Regions from separate parts of the Homo sapiens genome. Here all the other regions are linked to region 3. The links come from fine-mapping of genetic effects on gene expression. A gene starts in region 3. Each other region holds a variant in brackets. All regions are shown on one strand. Distances are between the middles of the regions.

The links.
Region 1: its variant is fine-mapped to the expression of MINAR1 in pancreatic islets (PISA, PIP 0.95).
Region 2: its variant is fine-mapped to the expression of MINAR1 in whole blood (TOPMed, PIP above 0.99).
Region 4: its variant is fine-mapped to the expression of MINAR1 in whole blood (INTERVAL, PIP above 0.99).

Annotation. Positions count from the first base shown.
Region 1 is chr15:79,356,804-79,361,952 of GRCh38, forward strand. It overlaps a transcript of TMED3 not described here. Among named protein-coding and RNA genes, the nearest start is that of TMED3, 48 kb to the left of the region's middle. The variant A/C (reference allele first, on the strand shown) is at 2,302.
Region 2 is chr15:79,592,057-79,597,205 of GRCh38, forward strand. No RefSeq gene overlaps it. Among named protein-coding and RNA genes, the nearest start is that of TRC-GCA5-1, 150 kb to the right of the region's middle. The variant G/A (reference allele first, on the strand shown) is at 2,740.
Region 3 is chr15:79,429,724-79,434,872 of GRCh38, forward strand. MINAR1 (membrane integral NOTCH2 associated receptor 1) reads left to right here and starts at 2,613. Exons shown (of 4, transcript NM_015206.3): 1 at 2,613-2,817.
Region 4 is chr15:79,364,850-79,369,998 of GRCh38, forward strand. It overlaps a transcript of TMED3 not described here. Among named protein-coding and RNA genes, the nearest start is that of TMED3, 56 kb to the left of the region's middle. The variant C/T (reference allele first, on the strand shown) is at 2,422.

The sequences.
Region 1 (5,149 bases), 73 kb before region 3:
CACTGCAGCATTATTTATAACCTCCCCAAACTGAAAACAATCCAAATATTCATCAGTAAGTTAAATAAGGTAAGATATGCAACACTGTGGAATATTATGTAGGCATTAAAATAAGAGGGACATTTACATGTGCAGACATAGACAAGTGTGCTTGATCTATTCCGGGAAACAAGGGAAAGCAAACTGAAAAACAGAATGTGTAGTATGAACCCATTTAAAATAAAAAGAATATACACATAAACACAGTTATGAACAAACATATAAACATATACAAATATGCATATGTTTATATGTGTATGAGCATTTGAAAAGATACACCAGCTTAATAGCTAATACTTCTGGAGAAGAGGATCCATTTTCTATGTTATACTCTTTCATATTTTAAAAAAACAAGCACACGGCTGGGCATGGTGGCTCGTGTGTATAATCCTGGCATTTTGGGAAACTGAGGTGGGAGGATCGCTTGATCCCAGGAATTCAAGACCAGCCTGGGCCACATAGTGAGACTCCCATTTCTACAGAAAAAAAAAAAATTGCCAAGCATGGCAGTGCATGCCTGTGGTCCTAGCTACTTGAGACGCTGAGGCAGTAGGATTGCTTAAGCCTGGGAGGTTGAGGCTGCAGTGAACTGTGATTGTGCCACTGCACTCCACCCTGCCTCAAAAAAAAAAAAAAAAAAAAAGCAAGCACATTATTACATTATTAATTTTAGAATTTAAACTTTTTTTTTTTTTAAAGCAGAACACGTCTTCTTGAACTAGTGTTATACCTCCTTCTCCTTGGGGTCCTATTGTCTGTGAATGTAGGCTCATCTCCTACTGGGAGGACTGCCGTGCTGGGGGCATTTGGAGTCTGGGCCACTGTAGAGGGAGCTGGCGGCCCTCCGCTCTGTGTATTGAGTCCACTCTGATTTCAGTTGATTGCAAAGGCAGTTGGAAGAACACTGGCTGGGAAATCAGGAAGCATGGCTGTACTTCTTAGTAGTTGCAAAGGACTGAAAAACTCACTTCCCTTTTCTGAGCCTCAGCTTTCCCATCTGGGAAGTTAATGCATTGGTTTATACCATTGTTTAAGTCCCTGCATGCCATCATACCCTAGGATTCTTTGGTCTTGTGAGTCTAAGTCTCCAATTGCTCTGTTTGAAAATTCTGTATCAACATCCTTCTTGGGAGATGTAACACACTATTAATGTACCCGTCTCGGCTTCTCTGTGAGCATACGTTCATTTATCAGATAAATCAGCAATCAGCAAGTTGACCCTAACGGGATGGGCCACTGAAGCATGCCTGTTTATGTCATGAGGGGAAGACCAGAGTATGGAGGTCAGTCCTACTCGTTGTCTTCCATCAGAGGCCCAAGGCACTGGATAGCGCAGTGAGCAGAGCCAGGCTGGGAGGAGGCTGTGTCCGAGGAATTTTCTGGGGGCCTGCTGTCTCACAACCCTGTGAACAGCCAGGAGAAGCAGACAGCTGCAAGGTCAGGACTTGAGGCCAGCACCTTCAAGTGTGACATCATTTTGCCACTTCAAAGCATAAAACTTTAAATGGCTCACTTTTTATTTCTGAGGTTTCAGACAACAACCCTACTGTGTGTGTCTAGGCAAATGGTTCAGGGATGCTGCTGACAGAAGAAAATTATGTTTGGCTGTGGATTGCAGTCTAGACTGAGCAGGTTGAGAGTGACTGGTACCTGGCTGGGATGGAAGCTGGGGATGGTGGGGGTGGAGTCTGTCTCTTGTGACAGCCATCTGTAGGATCCAACTTCAAGATTAGGAGGTTAACAGAAGCATCCCTCAGGCCCATCCCGAAGGAGATCACGGGTCCACCCTAGGACCTCTGACCACTGCCTTCCAGTTAACAGTATTTCCATCAGTGGATATTCAGCAAAGAAAAAATACTTTCTAAGACCCCAACATTTTCTTATTTGCCTGATGCTTAAAACGAAATTTCATAGAAAGCAGGCAGCTTCCATGCAGCTTTCCCTGGGGTGAAATGGCTGGGCCTATTTGCTCCTTGAAGGAAAAGTTTGCTGTGAACTTCTCAGATAAGTGGGTGGTGGATAGCAGGGACAGGAGAGCCGTGGCCTGGACAGGGTTCCTGATTCCTCCAGTCTGGATCAGTCTGAGGATAACTAAGAAAGGGAGTGGGGATGGGAAGGGGCTTTTTGCATGCCAAACCTGCATCTACTGGGAGTGCAGTGGCTGGAACAAGAGAGAGTGCAGCAGCACCTCATCTATCAGGAGTACAGCTCTGGCCATCCCAGGAGAGGCACTCAGACAAATTGGATTCTGCCCACGGGGGA[A/C]GACAAGGGAAGTGAGGAGGCTTATGTAGCTGGAAGGAACAAAATTGCAACTCAAAACAAAAGTGGACTGTGTGCTTATTTGCATACCAGAGGAGAGGTACAGTTTATTTGAAGGAGAAGGCTCAGTTTTTTTTTTTTTTTTTTTTGAGACGGAGTCTTGCTCTATTGCCCAGGCTGGAGTGCAGTGGCGCAATCTCAGCTCACTGCAACCTCCGCCTCCCAGGTTCAAGCCATTCTCCTGCCTCAGCCTCCCAAGTAGCTGGGATTACAGGCACCCACACCATGCCTGGCAAATTTTTGTATTTTTAGTAGAGACAGGGTTTCACCATTTTGACCAAGTCTCGAACTCCTGACCTCAAGTGATCTGCCCACCTCAGCCTCCCAAAGTGCTGGGATTACAGGCATGAGCCACTATACCCGGCCAATTTGAAGGGGAAGGCTCCTTATATAGAAAAATCAGCTGAGAGGTGAGTCTCCCTGTCCAGGGCATGACCTTTTTAAGGGTAAGGGGAAAAAAAGAGGAATAAACAGCTCCACAAATAAATGGTATAGAATTTGGGAGTTGTTTCTGACAGCTGAAGAGATTGAGAGATCAAGGTCTCAGAAAATGGAGAGAAAGCACGTATAGTATCAAAAAGTTAACAATCAGCTGATCACACCAAGCAAAAGGAATAAGTGAGTAAATACAAGTAAAGCCCTTATTATTATACATGCCTGGAATAGCGAAAGCCCTAGGTAGTAGCTATTATCTCCCTTCTTCTTCTGCCCGTGGGTCTACACAGAACAGGTCTTGCTCTTATGCTTCAAGAATGCCCTTGGGAGGAATGTCTGATAAATTTTTAGGACATTAAAGTCTAATGATGAATATAGTGTCTTGCCTGTACTTTACTATGTTATACTCTTCCACTGTTACCCAAAACCTTTAGCAAAACTGTAGTAAATCCAATCTCAATTGTTAGTGAGACTGCGGGAAGAAAAAGTTAGGATCTGGGGCCATGGACAGGCACAGCGGGTCAGTGAGAGGGCAGGTAGCCATGGGATCCGAGAACAATAGCCAGGAGCATGCCACAGAGTGCAGCAGGTGCAGGAGGACCCCCAAGATGTTGAATCCACCTAGAAATTCACACAACTGTTGAGGGTTGAGCTGGGTGTGGGGTGGGCTCCACACAGAATGTGGGATGGAATCTTGAGCCATCTTACATGGATATTAAAGTAGAGGGCCCAGGTTTCTGTGGGATAGACTTGGTCATGCCATCGAGGAACCAGGGGTGTTTAGGTGGGGAAGCACTCTTCAGGGGTCACATAGCTACTGTCTTCTATCAAAAGGACATTCCTGACGCATAAGAAAGACTTGTTTTGTGTAGACCCAAGGGCAGAAGAGAAAGGGCAATAATAGCTACTAACTGAGGACTTTTGCTATTGCAGGCATTGTTACAAATTTACTCATGTATTCCTTACAACAGTACACTGTAGTGTGTCACTGTAAAACAGACATCTTTACATATCGTTAGACCGCGACATCCCAACAGCAGTGCCTTAAGTGGATTATATATGTCCAGCGATGCAGGTGTCCAAAAGTGATCAGAGTCCCAGGCTGGCTGTCCACTCTACGTGTCGTGACAATGCTGATACTATCATTTTCTGTGTGTGCCATAAAACGAAAAACAATAGTGGAACATTGATTTAGACAGTATGCTACAGAATCACTTAAAACGAATACATAATATTCCATGTAATTTATTTTTTTAATTTTTATATTTTTAGAGACAGAGTCTCACGGTGTCACCCAGGCTGGAGTGCACTATTGTGATCATAACTACTGCAGCCTTGAACTCTTGGGTTCAAATGATCTGCCTGCCTCAGCCTCCCAAGCAGTTACAACTACAAGTGCACACTGCTCAGCCTGGCTAATTGTGTTTTATTTTTATTTTTATTTTTTGTAGAGAGAGAGTCTTGCTATATTGCCCAGGCTGGTCTTGTACTTCTGGCCTCAAGCCATCCTCACACCTTGGCCTCCCAAAGTACTGGGATTACAGGTGTGAGCCACTGGGCCTGCCCATATGTCACTGATATTTTTAACCAATTCCAAGTGTTGAAGTTCCAATTCTGCCATTTGCTGGTGGTGTGGATTACAGAAGACTTAGGTTTCGGTAGCCTAAGTTTCTTCGTTTGTAAAATAAGAATGATAAAACTTATCTCATATGATTTTTGTGAGGATTAAGTGAGGTAACTCAGGTAAAAGAATTTTATTTTACATTTTAAAACTATTTAAACATTCAATATATACGATGGAACACTACTCAGCCATAAAAAGGGATGAATTAATGGCATTCACAGCAACCCGGGTAACTCAGGAATGGAAAACCGAACGTCATATGTTCTCACTTATAAGTGGGAGCTAAGCTATGAGGACGCAAAGGCATAGAATGACACAGTGGACTTTTGGAACTCAGGAGGAAATGGTGAGAAGGGGATGAGGAATAAAAGATTACAAATTGGGTGCAGTGCTCAGGTGAGAGGTGCATCAAAATCTCACAAGTCACCACTAAAGAACTTACTCATGTAATCAAACACCACCTGTTCCCCAATAACTTATGGAAATAAAAAAATTAAAAAAAAAAAAATATTTAAACATTCAATATTATGACCAATACATATTTTGCCCAAATAATTACTAAATTAATGACCTGAAATTATGTCAAGAGAATCAAGTAAGCAACTTAGAATTAACAAGAGATTTCGGAATGTGTCCATTTATAAAATAAATGTAGAAAATTATTTTCCTTTTTTAAAAAAAGTATTAATCACTTGAACAGTAAAATAAAAGATCTAATTTATTATTGAAAAA
Region 2 (5,149 bases), 160 kb after region 3:
TGGGCTGTGGGCTCCTGTAGGGCAAGCACTGTCTCCTGCTTGTCTCTGTATTCCAGGAATAGACACAGGCCCTGAGATGAAGTAAGCACTCGGTAATTGCTTATTGAATGAGTGGGACGGGCAATGGCTCTGTGTGGAGAGAGAAATAAAGAAATGACAACTTGAAGCACAATAACAGTCCTATAGGGGCTTCCTGAGACCCAGAACTCGTCTTTGATTTGAGTCCAGGCCTGGGAGCTTCTAAATGTCGCTCCCAGGACCCCAGCAACATCAGAGGTGGTGTTATTAACCTTAGCAAGACCGCTAAACCCTGGAACCATCCACTGAGATCCAGGTATGTTCCCCGGACTAGCAATCTCCTGGTCACAGAACTGCTGGAGCTTAGGAAGTAGAAGGAAGGTCTTCCTCCCCTAGCCCAACCAAGAAGAATGAGAGGGCCTCCTTCATCTCAGCTTCACAGAATCTATATCTCCAGCTCTTATGTACACACCACTCCACCATCACCCCACAAGGTTTCCAGTCCTGGCCCGTTACTTGTGTGCCTATTAGCTCCTAAATATTTTCCCTCTGTGGCTTCTGAGGGCCTCCAGAAGGGGTATAGCTTCTTGGCAAAGAAAACAGGTTTTGCGCTCCAAAGAACATGGATTTGAAACTTGGCTCCATCCCTTGCCAGCACTATGCACTCAAGCAAGGTGCTTACTCTCTCTATGCCTCAGCTTCTCTATCTGTAGGGCAGGAGTAGGTATGGGATTGGGTTGAGCCTAAGTGAGACACTACACATAAAGGGCTTAGCATACCCAAAGAGAGTGCCCAATAAATGGTGGTTGCAACAACAACAAAAATCATTCTTTGCTAGCAGTAAGAACAGAGTCTAATAGGAAGACAGAAAAATTAAAAAACAGAACAATTATCATGCAGTATGGTAAGTGGTAGAATAGAAATAGAAAGAAGCTCTGGGAGCCATGGTAACCCAAACAGAATTGGTGATATCTACCTGTAATGTAAAAGCTGTGTCAGGCAAGTGTCAGGAGTGGGGTTGGGGCTGCACGTTGATAATCTAGAGACAGAAGCAAAGCCTTTATGGAAAATTACAACAGTTCAATAGAGTCAAGAGAGGGCCAGAGCAGTGGGTACTGCCTGAAACATGAAGCCAGAGGCCAGAATGCTTAGTTTTGGTCTTCCCTAACCTGCTGGGATTTGCTCCAGCTGCAGGACTAGGCTTCTGCCTCAGTGCCCTGACTGCACTGCAGCTCCACCGTGTGTTGAATTTGCCAGAGACCATCTTGCAATTTCTTCTTTAGAGCCTACAGTAGGTAATTTTCAGAGGAGTCTTCTTTCCTCTTTGTCTGTCTGGTGCTGTTCTCCATCTTTTATTTTGCAAGATTTTTGTTAGAACCCCTTTCCCACCCCTGCTCTTCTTCACTCTTCCTTAACCAGGCAAGATATGTTTAAAGAAGGGAATTGTCAAAAGACAAGGTGAGCAGATTGCTCTTGACCTGACTTTCTGTCTCCTTGTGAAATAACCAAATACTTTTCTCTGATTACAGCAGAACGTAAATTGACATGCACACATCCCAGTGTAGTTCCCAATTCCAGGCGACTTCCACCTACTGGAAGTACTTTGAAATTACTGTTCCCAGCATACATTACTTTCAGAGGGTTCTGGGTCTTTCAGGAATTGCACCTTCTGGAATTCACGGGTCACTTCCTTTTCTACTTACCTTGGAGCTGTTTTGGGGGAGTTTGCAATCAATAAGGAAAAATAGTGGGTGGCCCATCAGAAAACAACAGCCAGGCAATTTCATATATCAGGCTAACAGATCAGCAATTTTCTAGGTCGCACATCCTTGGTCTCTGAATCAAGGGACAGATAAAGGAGGCAGCTATGAACCATTTTGCCAGCAGTATTCAGGTGGCCTTGGTACCCAACTCCTTTCCAGCCTGCAGAGCAGAATGAGTAGAAATGTTCCCAATCCACCAGGTATGACAATCCCCCCAGAGGCAGCATAGAAAGGGGCCACGTGGATGAGAATAAAAGATGCCTTTGCTCTGACCTGTGTGGATTCATCATCAAGAACCTTGTCCACCTCCCAACAGCTACATACATGCAAAAGCCTTGACACCCCAACTGACGGAAGTTAAGTTTCCTCTGCTCTCGTACCACATGAGCTAAAATAGAACTAAGTTGGATCATGAACACAAAGGTGCATTTCTTGCACACCTGAGTTTGCAGTGTGAGATTTATTGACTCTATGCTGCTTACCAGCTAGACTGGGACACCTAACATAGGGGTCTACGTCTCATTCTCCTTTATGTCTCTGGTGTTTCTCATAATATTAGGCACATATAAGTGCTCAATGGATGTGTATTAAATAATCATTTTAAATTTTAAAATATTCTCAAGTATCTTAGCATATTTAATTGACATTCTCAACTCACCATCTGACTGGGAACTCCTCAAGAATAAATCCTGTGCTTTTGCCTCTGTATTTCTGATGTTGTGCTCAAGTCTGGGAACATGGGAAACAGACACTCAGATGCTAGCTGATCAAAGTAATGGGCAAATAAGCGAATGAGATAGTGTACTGGGCTAAGAGAGGGAACGGTCTGCCAGAGAGTTGAGTTTGAAACCCATTTCTGAAACTTACTGGTTGCGTGATGTAGGTGAGTTACATAAGCCTGATTTCCTCATCCGTAAAGTGGAGATAATAATATCTATTACACAAAAATGTTTTGAAA[G/A]TAAAGTTTAAAACGACAGCATTTGTGAAAGAACTTTGCAAGTCAAGGCATGCAGAAGGCATTTTAAAAATATGAAAAACAAACCATCAAAAATCTTACTCATTGATTACTTACGAATATGCCTTTTGAAACATTCATTTTTCCCAGATACAAAACAAGAATAATAGTCCCTGTCTCTGTAGAATGAGATCAGCTTGGGATTTCTTAAATGTGCATACAGTAAAACTGTAATCTTTGTTTAAAAAAAAGCAAAATAAATTCTTATTATCCCCCAATATTAATACTAACATTAAGGTTTCTCTAATGGTATTCCATAATATTATCTTTTATACAGAAACCCAAAGTCGGCATCTAAAATGTTTATTTAAAAAATTGAAAATGTTAAGACCTGTAGCAAGCACATTATCATTAGATTTTCTGACATTTTGATTAATAAAATATCACCAGTCTGCTCAGATACATACTATAAATCATCTTCCAGACACCTGGACAGGCAGCATCCCTGACAGCTGTTCCCACAGCCAGGAGTGGTGTCAGAGTTGGTGGGTGCCTCACCTCGGAAGCTATGACACATATAAACACATTGAAAAATGCAATAATTAGAAGCAGTGCAGTCAGGTTGCAAAATGGCAGGACGAGGGGTCTCCTTGAAGGCCCCTCTGTGCTTCCCAGGAGGAGTCAAGTGCATTCGGCGACATTTGAGGTGACACCGGCCAGGTCGAGAATTGCACAGATGGCTTCCCAGACTGTGTGCTTCCTTTTCTCCACTGCAGCCTCCAGGGGAGGATTGATTACTTTGTTCAAAAGGCAGAATCAGCAGATGTTATTGATATGGAACTCTATGGGACTGGAATTCTGTACTATGGATAGCACATGAGGCTTTTTTTTTTTTTTTTAAGCCAAAGCAGCATTAGTGGAGGCTTTAAAAATAAGCCACAGTTCCCGTTTTAATGGATTCAGTGTTAGGTCATGTGCACAATCTGTTATTTAAAATGTGCATTTACAGGCCGCTGTTGAAAATACCTGCTTTTAAAATGCCTTGGGCTTCAGACTTGCTACGTAGGGCAAGACTCTGTCACAAGAGTTGTCTCTTTCATCAGCGTCTGTCTTTCCTGCTCAACTGGAGACACTGAACTCCCTACCACAGACATCTTTTCTGGGACAAGTATATTTGTCTCCTTTTTGTCTCTGATGATGAAGGAGAAAGAGTGTAAGAATATGAGACACTGGCCAATGACAGTAAAACGATCTAAAAAGAAATAAGCCAAGAAATTACAGTTTAAACCTCTTTCTTGTGCACACTCTGCCTCCTAAGAGTGCGATCCAATCACATGACCTCTCTGCCCCATCAGCTTTACTCCCCCGGTCCACCCTGTGAGGTTCTTCAGCTCCCCCTAGAGGCTGGAGTATGTTATGAGCAGGAACCACAGCTTCACCTGTGGGTAGGAGCCCATGGTCCACCCTGTGAGGTTCTTGAGCTCCTCCTAGAGGCTGGAGTATGTTATGATCAGGAACCACAGCTTCACCTAGACTTCTGTGGCCAAAGATTTAGTATCCAGGAAGAGCATCAGACACTCCTATGTCCATCGGGTCAGAGTCTTTCCTTGACCTTCTCCTTCTTTTCTGCATCCAACAAAGTTGATGCTTCAATTCTCTTTCCTGGCATTCTTGGCTCATATCTGTTAGGCTGGGTATGGGGGAAAGATGCTAGACCCTGAGTCCAGTAGTTCCAACAGCTAGGTCCTGCTCTGAGTTGCTCACTCACTCAGAAACAAAATTTTCATGATCAAACTGCACCTTCTGTCCTTATGCCCCACTCATCAGAGCAGCCCTCCGGTGCCAGCCAGAACTAAGTCTAAATCAAGCCCTAATTATTATCTAATAAGCCTTGATCTCCCTCCCAGGGTCCCTTGCAGTAGGCACCATACTCCCAGGCCACAGTCCTGCCTGACCCCCACTCATCATCCCTTTCTATTGTTAGCTTTGGCTGCTGAGGTATCCATCCACCCAGGTGTCAAGATGACCAAAGACCCTCATTCAACAGATACTCACTCAACCCCTACCACAAGCCAGGACCTGTGCCCAGCATCCAGTCCCCAAAAGGAACATGATTCCTAGCCCCCACAAGCTCACAGTCTGGTACAGGTGAGGCACCGGTGAGTATTTTCTGTGAAGGGAGTTAAGTGCCAGCTCTGTTAGAGGGTAGCAGGAGGTCCTATGGGAGTATCACTGGAGGCTGACCAGCAGGACTGGGTTTCCCAAGAGGCAGACTGGGCAGACAGGCAAGGCAAGAACATAAAAGAATGGAGGAAAAAAATAAAAGAATATCGATCTATCCAAAAAGAAGCCTTGAATTATCATTATGGGAAAATCAGAATTTTTTGGACATTCTTACATAGATTTCATGGTT
Region 3 (5,149 bases):
CCATAGATAAATGGTGAATATAATTTAGTATCACTCTGGTGCAGTGAGTAGTGCAGACAAATAACCTTCACTTTTCCCCAGGTGGGGAAGATGGGCTGTGCACAAAGATGTCCACTGTGCGTGTGTGCAACGGGAGAGGGAGTCCAAGTTCCAGCCTCTTCCCAGAGAGGGGGGCATAGGAGGAGACAGCACCTGGCTGAGGTGTTACTGTATCTGTGTCCACTTGGGGAGGGGTGAGTGGCCACAAGTGAGAGGAATACCTCCCAAGGCTTGAATGAGGGCTTCTGGGGCAGGCTTACAGAAATCAGTAGCCAGGAGGGGAAAAGGGCAACCACTTGAATCCTTTGTGTCTGTAAACACCACTAGCCAACTCTGGCTGGAACTGAGTAACTGTAGGATCAGAAAGCTCTAATCTGCATTTTCCTTTTATGCTGTTTCAAATTTTAAAAGTTGTTTTCCAAAAGGGTTATTTCAGAAAGAAATTAAATAAACCTCTAGCCGACCTCAGCTGAACTAAGGGAGGGAAAAGCAGATTTTTACTGAATCTGAGTTTCAGGAAGCTATGGTTTTTCCTTCTAGAATGTGGTCTCTGTGGTAGTATTTCATGAAGAAACAGGAGAAAAAACAGGAAAGAAGAACTCAAAGCAAAAGAAAAGGCAGATCCCACGCAGCTTCCTGTCCTAATTGTTCCATGTGGATTCAACTGTTCTCGGTTTTGGGAGAAATATATACTTGTTCAGGTCTCAAATAATCTGCCCCTGAACTCAAAGGACAATGAGGCCCCCAAACAGTCTTTAGCTATTACCAAACAGGCTTCTTACCCTGGGGACCCCCTTTACTCCTTAAGCTTATGCTCCCTTTTGCCACAAACAATATTGGGACCCAAAGACAGAGCCAGCACTACTTACAAATTTAAAATCACTAGGCAAGGTACAGTGAATCAAACAAACTTCACTCCTACTTTACATTTTCAAATCCGTTTGCCCTTACTAGAATAGGTTTGAACTTGCCTCACAATAAGGTAATAAAGGCAAATGGATTTTAAAAACTTGGGCAGAGAGGAGCTCTGGGAAAATCTAGTTGTCAACACGTATCACCCTGATAGGGCGTTATTTAAAGTATCCATTTATTAGCAAGTTCACTTTTGTTTGCTTGTTTTGTTTTTAAAAAACTTTTTATTAGGTAAAATTTGAACATGCACCAAAAAATAGAATCAGATAATGAATCTTGGGACTAGCTGCAAGTTCACTTTTAAAGCGTTGTTGCCACCCACATCCAGACAGCTGAGGGAGGCTGAGACTGAGATCTGCGTCCCCCCAGGGCCTTTGCTCCGATCACAGGTAGCAAATGTCAGGGAGAAGCTGGCCAGGGAAAAGCCGCCACAGCCCCCGAGAGGGCTCTGTCCCTGGGGAGGTATGCTCCTTAGCAGCTCTGTTCGGTAACTCGGTGGCAGGGAAGGAGGTGGGGTGGTGGGGGTGGGGGTGTTGCTTTCCTTTTGAAATGAGATTCCATGGCCCCGAAACTATGATTCCCTCCCTCACCCTTTTTGTTTGTGTTGTTCTTGTCTTGGGGATGCAAAGTGCTGTTAACGTGAGCTTCCCCAGCCACAGGGACAGGATCTGTCTAGATGGGGCCACCAGAGGCAGCTGCTGTGTTTCGGCTCCACTCCAGCACACAGGGTGACACGGAAGGCCTCCATTTCTGATCCATGTATCCAGTAAGCTTTTGGAAACCCATCCCAGTTTCGTGGGGTTTGGGGGTGTGTGAATGAGTGAGTATGTGTGTGTGTGTGGGGGGGGAGAGAAACAGGGAGGGGTGGTCACGTGACAGTCTTTCCAATCTGGATCCCAATTAAGCCGACACCAGCCAAAAGAAGAAATCAGTGAGTGAAGTGACCACTTGGCCCTGGCCTTGCAAACCACTGCAGAGTCCGAAGCCCCGAGTGCTCCCTGGGAAGAGGAGAGCCGAGGACACTCTTCGCCCCTGCTTGCCACTGGGGGCCGCAGTCACCTTCAGCATAGGGGAGTGGGGAGACGCGAACCCCGCGGGTGGCTCCGGGTGGTGGGCTCCCTCCAGCGCGCAGCTTCCGCTCGCTTTCCCCTCGGCGCTGCAGCCGCGACCTGGGACCGAACGGACACCGCCTTCCCGGGGCTCCGGCGGCGCTCTGACTCCCACTTTCCTCCGCCGCAGCCTCTGGCAGGGCACCCCCTTGGCGCGACGCCGCGCCCCTCCCCGGGACCGCCCCCTCGGTCCCCCAGGGTGCGCTCAGTTGCTGCCCGTGCGCCCCGCCAGCTTGAGCGCCCCGGGCGGGCGGCGGTGGAGAAGCCCAGCCCAGCTCTCCCCAGCCGCGTTCCCGGCCCGCGCTGCTCCCAGCCTGCAAGCCCATGACGTGGCGACGCCGACCGAGACACAAAGACCGAGGCTGAGACCGCCAGGGGTTGAGGGTGAGGCCGCGTCCCGGGGCCGCTGGAGCGCGGGCGTCATGCGAGACTGTCCCGGCTGCGCGCCGCCCCAGAGGAGTCCGAGCGCCCCCTTCAGCCGCGGCGCGCTGGCCCTGGCCGGGACTGCAGCCAGGTGGGCGCCGCGCGTGTGAGCGCCGCGCGTGTGAGCGCAGACCTGGACTCGGGCGGCGGAGGCGAAAGTCGCTCCATCCGCGGGGTGCAACCCTGGGCGCGGAATCCGGGCTGCCGGGTGACAGTGACCAGCTGACTCTGGAGCCTACCGGAGGCGCGGCATCGGAGGCCGTGCGGACCACTGCCGAACAGCCGCTGGAGACCCGCAGAGAAGGGCGGGCCCTGCGCCCGGGGCGCCTCGGAGGTAAGTTCGGAGAGCCCGGGCCGGGCGGAGGGCGGGAGCGCACGAGTGTGTGTGTGTGTGTGTGTGTTCGCGGTGTGCCCGCGGCTCGGTGCACACGCGCGCGGGTTGTAAAGTCAGGAGCTGCGGGAGCGCCTCCCTGCCTCGGCTTGGCCCCGGAGCATTGCGGGCCGCGGAGGTGTGGGGGCCCTTGTCGCTGCGCTCAGGGCAGCGGCGGAAAAGGTGTGTGCGGATGCGGGGCGGGGCCGCACCTGGTGGACAGAGCAGGGATTCGGGAAGAGAAGCCACGGAAGATGATCATGCAGTTTGGGGCAAGTTTTCCTGGTTGAGCATCGCTTCAGGAAACGGTGTTTTGAGGGTTAAATATGTGAGCTATCTGTGCAAAAAGCCTGACACATCAGAGGCGCGAAGTAAGATGGAAAGCTGGACAAGCCCCAGGTGGACCGACCGGTGCATCCAATTCTTAAATTGAGATTTCCAGTCACGTTGATGTGGAATGGGATCGTTGTTCTTCCCGAGGGTTTGATAAGGATGCTCAACTTCACCTGTCAGAAAGCACGGGAGCTGGGCCTGGCCCGCGGGGAGCGTAAGCTCGCTCACACGCGGTCCAACTCAGGCAAATGCAGCATGCCCGACCTGCTCTGCCGCCATCCCTCCGAAAGCGATAATTTCCTTGGGCTACCGAATCCATCAGAGTAGTCATTTGTCCCCTCGCCGGCGGTGCGGGGAGCGTAACATTTGAGTAGCCTAACTCTCACAGCGCGCACTCCAGCATTGTTTTGCTGGAAGATTGTTACTGTGGTAAGCGGCTGGTAGCCTGTGTTAAGCAGCAGGGAAGATAAGGTTGTGTTCAGGTGCGCTTAATTCAGCGGGAATTAAGTTATGTTTGGTGAAGATCTAAGGAGAGGAAAAATCCAGAGTTTCTGCTATAAACAATGTACATCTATCTTAAAGGCTTCTCACCCATTTCTCTTGTGGATGGAGCCATGTGGTTGGGAGGTGGTAGAACCATGCCGCCATCCCTGAGGCTGTGGTTGGAGGCCTCATTGCTGGGCTCTGCAATTTTATGCTCTGTGATATTATGCATGGCATGAAGAGTTGCTAGGAGGAGTGTGGAAGCAGCTTATGTGGCCAGTTATGCATCCTTTATTCCAGCAAACGAGCTGCCACTGCTACCTCTCTCTGATGGAGAGGGACGGTAAATGGCCCTTCCTTGTCATTTCTCAGACACCAGCATTACTGGGCCCGCCCTGCAGGTGGAAGCTAGCTCACTGCTGTGGCCACAGGATGTCTTTTGAATTGACCCTCATTGAGAGCCCGGCGGCAATATTTTGGGTATTGTTGAAATAAGAGAAGTGGATTAGAGAGAGTAGGATGCCTGGAGTTGTACAATACCCTTTAATGGGTTTTCCTCTTGTGTATCAGAGGAGGGTAGAGCAGGAGACGGTGGTGAGTCTGCAGAGAGGGCAAACTTAGAGATTTTCTCAGGCTACTGGAGCCTGGAGGGAAAAACCTTAAATGTCTGATAAATAAAGTCTGATTTTTATTGTGTGTGTCTGAGAGACTTGCATAGATCAGGGAGTATGTGAAAATAAATGTCAGTTGCCAGAGAAAGAATAGATCAAACAGTTTATTTGAATTTCTGATGAGTTTGGTGAGGAAGTGTATAGCACTTAACATTTGGAAGGCAGACAAAAGGTTTTGTTGTTGGTGTTATGTTCCTTTTGAATTTTAGATACATAATGCGATTTTTTTTCTGGCCAATGCTCCAGGCAAAATTGATGTCTTTCCACTTTCTAAAACCCATCATATTTATGAACTCTCTGATACTCTGTCTGAAACAGTCGTGCTCCTGTGAGGTTGAAATATCTCTCCTGCCTCTATTCACAGCAGACGCACAGAACTGATCTGGGAATTTTCTCACTCAGGATTCCCAAAATGAGCCCTTTCTCAAATCTTGACAAACGTGCAGCAGAAGCCATTGTTGCAGTTATGGCTCTGTGCCTGCTGGGCAGGGATTTAAAGGCCAGGAGAAGGCAGGGGAAGGCCCTGCTCTCTGCTCCAGCCAGGTGGTAATATGCATTCTCAAACTAGCTAGGAAAAGGTTCTAGATTCCTCAGTGAATCTATTGCTGAATCCCACTGATTAGCTTTTCCCACTGACAGACATTCAAATCTTTGTTTTTGGAGCTTCCTCTGCAGACTTGGTGTAAATTTCAAAAAAAGAAAAGAAGGCTATGAAGCTTAAGACAGGCAGAGACAGTTGGCTTCCTACCTAGGCATGCTTCAAACTCACTATATGACCTTGGTAAATTATGTAACTTTAATGCATGCTT
Region 4 (5,149 bases), 65 kb before region 3:
TTCATCCTTCAAGCCCATGTGTGACTTGATTCTTCCAGGACACTGGGAAAGAGCTTGGGATACAGAAAGGTGTCACACCGGCCCTCTGCCCTTGCAAAAAGGCAGAGGGTCCATTGAACTGATTAACACTTAAGCTGTCTGCGGATGGCAGGGCTAAAAGGGCACACTGTAATGCATACCCACTTGGTCTCCTGCATCTGTCCCTCTGCATGCTCCCTCTCCCCTCAGGGGTTTGAGCAGCGGAGACGAGGGAACAGGCGATTCACACCCCTGCTGAATGTCCTGAGAGGGGGATCAGGGAACTCTCCTGTTTTGCTTTCAAATACATGGGGATTACACATTGGTTTGAACTAAAAAGACAGGACAGCTCAAAGCAGGGGCCCACAGGTCATAGGTGAATTCAGAGATTTTCTGATTTGTAACTGATTAAAGACGAGAAGCTTTGTCTAAAGACTTGGGGTCAGCAGAAAAGAATGTTAGGTCTGGCTTGTGGACATCACCTCCTCCAGGCCCCTCAGGAAGAAATTTAGAACAAAGAACGGCAGTGCAAACCAAAAAGTATCCGAGACAGGTCTCAATTAATTCAAAAGTTTATTTTGCCAAGGTTAAGGATGTACCCAGGAGACAAGTCTGTGCCTTTCTCCAAAGGTGATTTTGAGGGCTTCAATATTTAAAAGGGGAAAAGCAGACTGGAGGGGAAAGAAGGAGGGTATGGTCACATTACTGAATCCACGTGTTGCAAGAGAAAAGGAGCAGGTAGGGGAACAGTCAATTATGTGTCTGTCTGGTGCTCAGTAAATCAGCACTTTACGTAAGATAAGGTGAACGTAGAGTAGCTATCTGTGGAGATATTTAACCTTTTATCTGTAGCTCTCTGCTTAGGAGCAAAAGAAAAGGCAGCTTCTTGCATGACTCAGCTTTCAGCTTAATTTTTTCCTTTTGGCACAGAGATTTGGGGTTCCAAGTTTTTATTTTCCTTTCACAGCAGCAAGAATCCAGTCCTCTCGGTCCCTCCATATCTGAGGTCTGTGTGCCAGCAGATCCATTTGGTGGGGTCCGAGTTTCTGAAGAACAAGTCAGAGACATATGTTAAGATGTTATCTTGTGTGGAGTCCTAATTAGGGAAAAGGAGTCAGGCTGGCAGGACCAGAGGAAAGCAAAGAGATAAAGCAGACAAGCTATAGGTCTGCCTTTCTTCGTGGTTCAGGACATATAAACAAAAAGAGGGTGAGATAAGCTATAGGTCTGCCTTTCTTTATGACCCAGCACATAGGGCCCTCCTGTGTAGGTAATGTATATAGCTCACAATATCATCAAACACCTAGGTTGATGGAAGAATGCAAGTTACCTTCCTGCTACCTTGGCGTTATCAGTACTGTACACAGCACTCTGCAGCCCAAGAACTATCCTATAAAATCTCCGGGAAGCCTTTGTTTCTTTGCAGTCAGCTGCTCTCTTGCTGATTCTGCCCATTGCTCTCTTGCAACATTATTTTTATATGTTCCTAATGAATCTGCCTTTCTTTATCCACAACTGCCTTGGTAAATTCTTATACCCCTCAGCCACTGGCCCAGATAGTCACCGCTCATCCGCAACATTTAGTTTCTATAGAGAACCAAACATCTCATGATTAACTTCCATGGCTGTTGTTATAAGCTATTACCTTCTTGCTAATCAAATTGCTCCCTTACTTCTCAGGGCGAGCTAGGTGCCTGGAATTTCCCTTGAAGGAACTAAAGATTTTCCTTTATTTCCATGCTTGGTTCGGGGATAGTGCCCAGCAGGCTCCTAAGAGGGGTCCCTGCTCCATCTCACCATTATCCACATCTTTGGAAAAGCTGGCCATTTAGATCCTAAAGCTAAGCTCGTGGTGGCAGCTACTTGAATGTTAGGCACAGAGCCTGGGGATGGCTTCACAAATCTAAAGCTCCAAGGTGACGGTGAATGTCTTATTAGCTGTGTGACTTTGAGGAAGGAGTTGGACTCTTTTTCACTTTTCAGCATTCCAGCAGCCCTTTGTGTATTTAATGTGCTGCACTTTAAGGTGCATTTTTTTTTCTTTCATTAATATACAAGTGACTGGTTTTGACTCATCAGATGGAAACTTCCAAGTCAGTTGCAGAGAATAATGATGGCTAGGTCATTGTTTTCAAAAAGCACAGCACAATCTCAATTCATATTTACCTCAAGTGGAGCTGATTATAAACCAAGTTTCATTTTCTCCTGACCCCAGCTGCTGGGTCCTGAATTAGCTTTTTATTCTTCTTTCCGGGTGAAGGATTTAGGTGGAGACCTAAAGGCATCTTTAACCAAATGCATCTCATATGGTGCCTAACAAAGTCCAATATGATGCAGAACTAAAACAGAGTTGGTCAGCAGGTTACTGGATACTATAGAAAATTGGATTAGTGAAGTGGAAAT[C/T]ACTCCAGCACTCAGGTGGTGTTATCAAATCAAACTTGAAGTCTTCTCACCTGGTGCAGTAGGACCAGCGATCCACACTGGGTTTGCAGTGGGAGAAAGGGAGGTTTTTATTTGTAGGGCACAAAGCAAGGAAGATTGGGAAGCTAATGCTTCAGTCCTGACACCCAAATCCTGGCAGCATCTAACACCTCTTCCTTAAACTCTCCCCTAAAACACCTAATGCAAGCCCAAGTCCTATCATAGGTCTTTTCTAACACTCTCTTGCAGAGGTACCCCACAGTTCCCAGAGCGTGCAAGCTCCCTCAGAGCAAGAAGTAAACCCCACCTGTTCCACCACAGGTGTTCTGGATGGTCTTTGGCTGAGGTGTTGACACTTACATCTCCGAATATGCTGCCAGCAAAGGCTGTTGGACAACCCGATGGGTTGCAGGTACAGGATTTTTAAAGGCAGGGGTAAATTTCAGAAAAGTAGAAGTTACATGTAAAGTAATAAATCAATACGTGGAAATTGCACATTGGTTTTGCCCTAAAGGGTTAAATGTCTTGAAACAGGGTCTTACAGATCAAAGGTAGATTCAAAGATTTTCCGATTTGCAATTTGTTAAGGAAGAGAAGCTTTGTTGAAAAATTTGAGGTCAGTAGAAAAGAATTAGCTCTGTTTGTGAGTATACCTTTATCCAGGCCCCTCAGGAAGTAATTTAGAAGAAAGAATAGTGGTCAGAGCTCAGTCCTCAGCTCCCCATTGCCTGGGGTCTCAGTGCCAGTGGATCCATTTGGTGGGGACCCAGGTTTCTGAAAAACAACTCAGGGACGTATGTTAGGATGTTGTTTTTAGTTTCTATAGGAGAACCAAACATGTGATTCTGGCTTCTTTAGCTATTATTTTAAGTTACTATTACCTTCTTGCTTATCAAGTTCCTTATTTCTTTCTGAGGGCCAGCTAGGTGCCTGGAATTTCCCTTGAAGGAACTCAAGATTTTCCTTTACTTTCATGCTTAGAGCTTATTTTCAAGCTTTCATGCTTTTTTGATCATAATTCCCAATGGATGGTCAGAATCCAACATACTTTGCTGGCAGCAGATTGGAAGTTGGAAGTGTTAATGCTCCAGCCAAAGACCACTGAGAACTCCTTTAGTGAAAAAGGTGGGGTTTGCTTCTTGCTGTGAGGGAGCTTGCACACTGTGGGAATTATGGGGTACCTCTGTAAGATAGTGTTAGAAAGGACCTATGATAGGACTTGGGCTTGTATTCAGTGTTTTTGGGGAAAGTTTAATTAAGGAAGAGATGTTAGATGATGCCAGGAATTGGGGGTTAATTCTATGTTTGGGTATCTTAATAAATCTAATCTAGAAGGAGAGAAAACTAGGTGAGGCCAAAACTGTAATTGGTAAAGAAGCAGTAGTCAGTCATATTGTAACTGAGCACCTCCATTTTTTTAAGAGTTAGTTTAATTATTTTTAATCATTTTATTATTTTCTCTTCTTGTTCCCCTGATTTTCCACTTCCTACTTAACCCTTTAGAAATGCAAATATAAGGCTGGGCACAGTGGCTCACATCTGCAATCCCAGCACTTTGGGAGGCCAAGGTGGGCAGATCACATGAGGTCAGGAGTTTAAGGCCAGCTTGGCCAACTTGGTGAAACCCCATCTCTACTAAAAACACACGCAAAAAAAATTAGCTGGGCATGGTGGCACACGGCTGTAATCCCCGCTACTCGAGAGGCTGAGGCAGGAGAATCACTTGAACCTCGGAGGTCAGGTTGCAGTGAGCCGAGATCGCACCACTGTACTCCAGCCTGGGTGGCAGAGTGAGACTCTGTCTTAAAAAAAAAAAAAAAAAGAAATGCAAATATAGCCTTTTACCTCTTCTTCACCAGACATTCCCTACAGGGCAAGTTCGTCTAACTATGTTCTCCAAGACAGAACTTTCTTTGAGAATTAACAGTGGATTTATAAACAAAAGCATGCCCACTAGGAAACTCACCCACCAGGGGGTTGCCTCGAGAGATAATAGTTGAAAAACATGCCTGCTACTCTCTCCTACCTGGGTAGTTTTCAGCTTAGTCCTGCCCATGAAGATGCCAGCTATCACTAGCTTGACCGCCTGGTAAGTAAGGCACCAAGCTAACATGCAGACTGCCACCTTGCTGGCTTCCTCCCCTGCTTTTTAAAAGTGCCCACTTTCTGTTCCCAAAGCAAAGTGGTACATTTAAAGGTGGGATGCCTGTGCTTCTTCCCCTAAGCTGGCTTTGGAAATAAGTCCCTTTATACCAGACCTCGCTCTTGTTAATTGGACTCTGCAAGCGGTAAGCAACTAACCCGCATTTCAGTTACAATATTAGCCAGAATGGGGGAATGTTAGGTCATTTTTATGATTTGAACAGTGCTCATGTTTCGTCTGTGTTCACACATAATTATGGAGTAGTCTTGTTTTTGTCTTGGTCCATCATTGGCCCTGAGTAGCCCTGTTGGGTATTGATGTTCTGTGAAGTGGTTTATGTCTAACAGAACACCAAGGCCCTGCTGTGCCAGGCCAGCTCCTGGCTGTCAGGGGCCTCTTTGCTGTTTCTCAGAAGGAAGGGCGATCCTTTTTTTCCCCTTCTGCATCTGAAGTCACCTCCAGCAAGTGGCAATAGCAGGTCCCTGCTAGGGCAGCTTCCTGGATTCTGCTCAAGCAGGGCAGAAGTTGAGAGTTTCCTAGTGGGCATGCTTTGGTTTATAAATCCAC